Homo sapiens: one gene and its partner. The protein of the gene in region 1 interacts with the protein of each later gene in a pairwise test. Each region holds a gene or a part of one and is shown on either strand. Other genes may lie near its edges. The genes, in order: ARL15 and CCDC90B.

The links.
Region 2: the proteins of ARL15 (region 1) and CCDC90B interact in a two-hybrid assay, tested with the Homo sapiens proteins (one large-scale study listed by BioGRID and IntAct).

The regions. Positions count from the first base shown.
Region 1 is NC_000005.10:54,111,253-54,115,073, reverse strand, and holds part of ARL15 (ADP-ribosylation factor-like protein 15), read left to right. Parts: intron 1-1,663; coding exon 1,664-1,872; coding exon of another isoform or gene 1,873-1,959; exon of another isoform or gene 1,960-3,639; intron 3,640-3,821.
Region 2 is NC_000011.10:83,265,715-83,269,535, reverse strand, and holds part of CCDC90B (coiled-coil domain-containing protein 90B, mitochondrial isoform 1 precursor), read left to right. Parts: intron 1-3,556; coding exon 3,557-3,671; intron 3,672-3,821.

The DNA of each region.
Region 1 (3,821 bases):
CAAGCTACCAACAGGATGTCACTGAGCACAGAGTTGGGAAGAGAAGCAAACAGGTGACCCTTGCCAGCCAGGGCACACCAACTGCAGTCCCCACTGTTTCCCTAACACATAACAATATGTCAAACATAGGAGCTAGATGTTCAGTGGATGACTGAAATACAGTTATTAACTGGTTAGGACTTGATCATATGCAATAAATTGGTGAAATTCCTTGAAATCTAATTGTCGTTATATAACCAGTAGCACCCCTTTCCTACACATGCACACATATTGCCCCTCCTATTCTTGAATGAAAGTGATGAAAACAGTCACCATGATGTAATGGGAAGTGCCTATGCCTTCCCTGGGCAGGTTGTCTGCTAACTCATGCAAATCCCAATTTTGTGATTTATTAGATACATGACAAGGGATCACTTACTTTACCTCTGTCTGCCTCAGTTTCCTCAGAGAGTTGGACTAAATCATCTCTAGAGTTTGTTCTAGTCTCAAATTTGTAAAGCTTAATTAGTATATAATTTTACTCCCTCATTCCCTCAATTTTCATTATTCCAGTACTGAACTTTGAGTTAGATGTTGTGCTATATAATGGAAATACAAAGAGGAATACTACATGACATGCCTTGGCTGATGAGACTCTCCATGTGGTGTTGCTTTTTTTTTTTTTTTTCTTGAGATGGAGCCTTGCTGTGTTGCCCAGGCTGGAGTGCAGTGGCGCGATCTTGGCTCACTGCAACCTCCACCTCCCGGGTTCAAGCGATCCTCCTGCCTCAGCCTTAGCTTCCCAAGTAGCTGGGATTACAGGCACCCGCCGCCACGCCCGGCTAATTTTTGTATTTTTAGTAGAGATGGGGTTTCACCATGTTGGCCAGGCTGGTCTTGAACTCCTGACCTCAGGTGATTCACCTGCCTTGGCCTCCAAAAGTACTGAGATTACAGGTGTGAACCACCGCGCCCAGCCTCTCCATATGTTTGTTTGTTTGTTTATTTGTTTGTTTTAATAAACATCTTATCTCATTGAGATCATAAGTGTACACCTGTTGTCTGTTATTTTTCCTCATGGGTTATGAAGCCAAACAGAATCATGTAATTGTATCAAAGGCCATGATTTTAGTTTTTCACAAACTTTAGCACTTTGACACATAAAGCTATTGTGCTAATAACTCCCTAGGTGAAATTAAACAAGGCTGTCCTGATCAGCAAGCAGTTCTGTTAAAAAAGTATCACCAAGCTAATGTTAATGGTTTGGAAAGAAGCGTTGGTGGATGTCTAGGCCATGCAGCTCTCTGAGGCAGGTTCAGTCTCAATTTTTAGAGAGTGTGTAGTTCATTTGAGATGATTAAAGTCTGAAAATATCCTTTTGAGTTTAAGTCTAGGAAGTATTTATCCTGGTTCTCTCACACACATTTTTATATAAAAGTCATTAAGAATGGCTTGGATTTTGTGTCTTCCTTCAAGGCCAAATCTACCTATTGGCTCTACTGCCTTCTTTGTTCCCATCCACTGTGATTTCTGCCTTTTCTAAATTCCTGTTTTAATCCATACCACAGAGTTTAGCACTTAATTTTTAAAAGGTACATTGGTTTCCAGTAGGAATTACTGTTGGGAACATTTTTCAGTTGCTGAAAGCTCTTTTTAAAACGAAAATTTGTTTTGTTTTTGACAGGGGCTGATAACATCCGGAAATACTGGAGCCGCTACTACCAAGGATCTCAAGGGGTAATATTTGTATTAGACAGTGCCTCTTCAGAGGATGATTTAGAAGCTGCTAGAAATGAGCTGCACTCAGCTCTTCAGCATCCACAGTTATGCACTTTACCCTTTTTAATATTGGCCAATCATCAAGACAAGCCAGCAGCTCGCTCAGTACAAGAGGTATGTCTCATTAGCATGACAACTCTTTGTCTTCCTTGCTTGTACTTTTGCTGCCACGTTGGAACCTGGAAAAATGCATGTAATTAGGAATGTGCTGGTTATGCTGCTTTCAACATGAAACCTTAGTTTTCATAGGAAGCAGAAAGCCTATATCAATCTGTTAGCACTTGTTTACATACCTAACCCTACTTGGAGAGCACAGAGTTTTCTAGCTATTTAGCAATGGTTAAAAGATGTTTCTGGTTATATTTTTCATCTATTTTGAGGGGCTAAAGGCCTGGTTATTTAATGTTGTTTTAACCTGTGGACTTAGTTCATTCTCTTCTTCAGCTTTTCTAGGAACATATCGTGAGTATTTCCATGCATTACTCGCCTTCAGGTGTCATGTTCTTGTTCCTCTGAAGTGTTCAATGTTGACTAGGATTAATGGATCCTATTCTGTAATCTGCTAGGCTGAAAATTGATGTCTTGCAAATTCCATGCCATCAAATACATTTTAACATGGAACCAATGTTTATCTTCCTCATTTAATTTTATTTCTTAGCTTGTATCTCTCCTATAAAAGCATGAGACTAATTCTAGGCAAATAGAGTCTCAGCCAATAGAGCTTGTGATTCATGGTACTGCAGTAATGAGATATGTGAATAGTTTTTAAAACTTAAATTATAGTGAATTATAACGTAAGTACAGTGAAATCAAAACTCCTGATGTATTCCTTTATACTTGTAACTTTCAGGATATGATTTCCCCTCTCCTTCAGAAAATTGCATGCTTCCTCAAGTGATTTTGGAATGAGATGATTAATATGAACAATCTTGCCTTTCAGCCTGAAAAATAAATGAGGAGCCAAGGACATAACATGTTCTAACTCCAGACCTCCCTCACACTTAGTGTGTGACCCACGGCAGATAGCCTATTCTTGTGCCTGGCTTCTCACCTCTAAAATGAGAATAATCCAATTTATTATGATAAGTTAATAGGATTAATTTGGATAATTTACTTTGAAGTTTAAACACCTAAGTAGAAGAACCATATAAATAGAGTTTTTATTCAAATTTTAGAAACACAGTTTAAAAAAAAGAAAGGCAAGGACCCATTATTCAACAGACAGAGCTCATGTCTCACTTTAGTTGCCTCATTCAGCATTAAGTACGTAGCACCTTTTAAAGAATAGAGTTTGAAAAATACCTTATAGATAATATTAAGTAATTAAGTAAAAAACAGCAATAAAAATCTATTCAGAAAGTCATTAATGTGAAGATCTTCAGCATTATAATGATGGTGTCTCCTAATGTGCTTTTAAGACCTTAGTTTGTAAATCTTTTAACTTCTCAGCATCAGTTTTTCTGCCTATAGAGTAGATATAATAGTATGTAATGAAGGGTAGTTTATGATTATAAGGTCGTTTGCTGAGAATGCATTGTTATTCAGCTATTCATTCTAAAAAATCTTGTAATATGTATGTGTACACTACTACATGTAGACAGTATAATGTGTGTATGTAATATATACATAATACATATACACATTGATAAAACATAGATATAAGTGCCATTTTAACTTCAGATAACTTTATTCAAGTTATTTGCAATATCTGAAAAAAGATTTTTTCTTTCTGCTTTTAAAGTTATGAACCTGTGTATCTGTTTTCCTTAGACATCATATAATTGAAAGTAATGTATCTTTAAACCTAACATATGACTTATGGTTACCCTCCATAGGAATGAAAGATGATCACATTGAATAAAGGAAGCTTTTAGCAATTAATTGCTTCTGAGTATTCCTTGTGTGTGTTGACTGGCTGTCTTTCCTAGGTAAAGAGCAAATATCTTTTTCCTTCTTTTTGTGATTCATCTTTCAGTAAGACTGATAGTTATAAATGTAGCGTTGTCATAGATATGGTCTGAAAATGATTCTAAACTTGTGTATACTGGAGCATATGTGGCTTT
Region 2 (3,821 bases), on another chromosome or scaffold:
TGTAGAGGTGTTTATAGTATTCTCTGATGGTAGTCTATATCTGTGGGATCGGTGGTGATATCCCCTTTATCATTTTTTGTTGCATCTATTTGATTCTTCTCTCTTTTCTTCTTTATTAGTCTGGCTAGTGGTCTATCAATTTTGTTGATCTTTTCAAAAAACCAGCTCCTAGGTTCATTGATTGTTTTTTTAAGGGTTTGTTGTGTCTCTTATCTCTTTTTTAAGGGTTTGTTGTGTCTCTTATCTCTTACCTCTGAAAGAGATAAGAAGCAGCAGAAGTTATTTATTGCCTTCTGCTAGCTTTTGAATGTGTTTGCTCTTGCTTCTCTAGTTCTTTTAATTGTGATGTTAGGGTGTCGATTTTAGATCTTTCCTGCTTTCTCTTGTGGGCATTTAGTGCTATAAATTTCCCTCTACACACTGTTTTAAATGTGTCTCAGAGATTCTGGTACGTTGTGTCTTTGTTCTCATTGGTTTCAAAGAACATCTTTATTTCTGCCTTCATTTCGTTATGTACCCAGTAGTCATTCAGTAGCAGGTTGTTCAGTTTCCATGTAGTTGTGCAGTTTTGAGTGAGTTTCTTAATCTTGAGTTCTAATTTGATTGCACTGTGGTCTGAGAGACAGTTTGTTGTGATTTCTGTTCTTTTACATTTGCTGAGGAGTGCAAGTGCTTTACTTCCAATTATGTGGTCAGTTTTAGAATAAGTGTGATGTGGTGCTGAGAAGAATGTATACTCTGTTGATTTGGGTTGGAGAGTTCTGTAGATGTCTATTAAGTCTGCTTGTTGCAGAGCTGAGTTCAAGTCCTGGATATCCTTGTTAACCTTCTGTCTCGTTGATCTATCTAATATTGACAGTGGAGTGTTAAAGTCTCCCATTATTATTATGTGGGAGTCTAAGTCTTTTTGTCGGTTTCTAAGGACTTGCTTTATGAATTTGGCTGCTCCTGTATTGGGTGCATATATATTTAGGATAATTAGCTCTTCTTGTTGAATTGATCCCTTTACCATTATGTAATGGCCTTCTTTGTCTCTTTTGATCTTTGTTGGTTTAAAGTCTGTTTTATCAGAGACTAGGATTGCAACCCCTGCTTTTTTTTTTTTTGCTTTCCATTTGCTTGGTACATCTTCCTGCATCCCTTTATTTTGAGCCTATGTGCATCTTTGCACGTGAGATGGGTCTCCTCAGTACAGCACACTGATGGGTCTTGATTCTATCCAATTTGCCAGTCTGTGTCTTTTAATTGGGGCATTTAGTCCATTCATATTTAAGGTTAATATTGTTATGTGTGAATTTGATCCTGTCATTATGATGTTCGCTGGTTATTTTGCCCATTAATTGATGCAGTTTCTTCATAGCATCGATGGTCTTTACAATTTGGCATGTTTTTGCAGTGGTTGGTACTGGTTGTTCCTTTCCATGTTTAGTGCTTCCTTCAGGAGCTCTTTTAGGGCAGGCCTGGTGGTGACAAAATCTCTCAGCATTTGCTTGTCTGTAAAGGATTTTATTTCTCCTTCACTTATGAGGCTTAGTTTGGCTAGATATGAAATTCTGGGTTGAAAATTCTATAAGAATGTTGAATATTGGCCCCCACTCTCTTCTGGCTTGTAGGGTTTCTGCCAAGAGGTCCGCTGTTAGTCTGATGGGCTTCCCTTTGTGGGTAACTTGACCTTTCTTTCTGGCTGCCCTTAACACTTTTTCCTTCATTTCAACCTTGGTGAATCTGATAATTATGTGTCTTGGGGTTGCTCTTCTTAAGGAGTATCTTTGTGATGTTCTTTGTATTTCCTGAATTTGAATGTTGGCCTGCTTTGCTAGGTTGGGGAAGTTCTCCTGGATAATATCCTGAAGTGTTTTCCAACTTGGTTCCATTCTCCCACTTTCAGGTACACCAATCAAACGTAGATTTGATCTTTTCACATAGTCCCATATTTCTTGGAGGCTTTGTTCGTTTCTTTTTACTCTTTTTTCTCTAACCTTGTCTTCTCGCTTTATTTCATTAATTTGATCTTCAGTCACTGGTACCTGTCTTCCACTTGATTGTATCAGCTGTTGAAGCTTGGGCATGCATCACGAAGTTCTCGTGCCATGGTTTTCAGCTCCATCAGGTCATTTAAGGTCTTCTCTACACTGTTTATTCTAGTTAGCCATTCGTCTAATCTTTTTTCAAGGTTTTTAGCTTCCTTGCAATGGGTTCAAACATCCTCCTTTACCTTGGAGGAGTTTGTTATTACCGACCTTGTGAAGCCTGCTTCTGTCAACTCATCAGTCATTCTCAGTCCAGTTTTCTTCTTGCCATTGCTGGCAAGGAGCTGCAATCCTCTGGAGGAGAAGAGGCACTATGATTTTTAGAATTTTCAGCTTTTCTGCTCTGGTTTTTCCCCATCTTTGTTGTTTTATCTACCTCTGGTCTTTGATGTTGGTGACCTACAGATGGGGTTTTGGTGTAGATGACCTTTTTGTTGATGTTGATGCTATTCCTTTCTGTTTGTTAGTTTTCCTTCTAACAGTCAGGACCCTCAGCTGCAGGTCTGTTGGAGTTTGCTGGAGGTCCACTCCAGACCCTGTTTACCTGGGTATCACCAGCAGAGGCTGCAGAACAGCAAATATTGCTGCCTGATCCTTCCTCTGGAAGCTTTGTCCCAGAGGTGCAGCCGCCTATATGAGGTGTGTGTCAGCCCCTACTGGAAGATGTCTCCCAGTTAGGCTACACAGGGGTCAGGGACCCAATTGAAGAAGCAGTCTCTCCGTTCTCAGAGCTCAAACGCTGTCGTGAGAGAACCACTGCTGTCTTCACAGCTGTCAGACAGGGACATTTAAGTCTGCAGAAGTTGTCTGCTGCCTTTTGTTCAGCTATGCCCTGCCCACAGAGGTGGAGTCTAGAGACAGTAGGCATTGTTGTGCTGTGGTGGGCTCAGCCCAGTTCAAGCTCCCCTGCCACTTTGTTTACCTACTCAAGCCTCAGCAATGGCGGATGCCCCTTCCCCAGCCAGTCTGCTGCCTCACAGTTCGATTTCAGACTGCTGTGCTAGCAGTGAGCAAGGCTCCGTGGGCGTGGGACCCGCTGAGCCAGGCACAGGAGAGAATCTCCTTGTCTGCCAGTTGCTAAGACCTTGGGAAAAGTGCAGTATTTGGGCAGGAGTGTCCCATTTTTCCAGGTAGTCTGTCATGGCTTCCCTTGGCTAGGAAAGGGAAATCCGCTGACCCCTTGCGCTTCCAGGGTGAGGCAATGCCCCACCCTGCTTCAGCTCACCCTCCGTGCGCTGCACCCACTGTCCAACCAGTCCCAATGAGATGAACCAGGTACCTCAGTTGGAAATGCAGAAATCACCCGTCTTCTGCGTTGATCACGCTGGGAGCTGCAGAGTGGAGCTGTTCCCTTTTGGCCATCTTGGAACACTTCAAATTTTTTTACACCACTATGCTTTTAATGTTTCCCCAACTAAGACTTTTATATCACAATTAGCCCATAAGTGAGGGTTTATAATGTAAATGCTTTTGTCCATTTAATACATAGGGACAAAATTAAGTTCTCTTATTCTGGTTTACCACAGGATACTCAAACCAAAAGTATTATTTCAGAGACCAGTAATAAAATTGACGCTGAAATTGCTTCCTTAAAAACACTGATGGAATCTAACAAACTTGAGACAATTCGTTATCTTGCAGGTAAGACTGTCAGAGAAAGAAATTGCTGTCATCTAATTTTCCTGTTAGTTCTACCTATCAAGGTAACTGAGCAGGCACAGGAAAAAAAGGAGGAGCTAGATAACAAGGCTCCTTTATTGCTTGGTCCCCTGTAGTGCTTAAAGAAGGTTC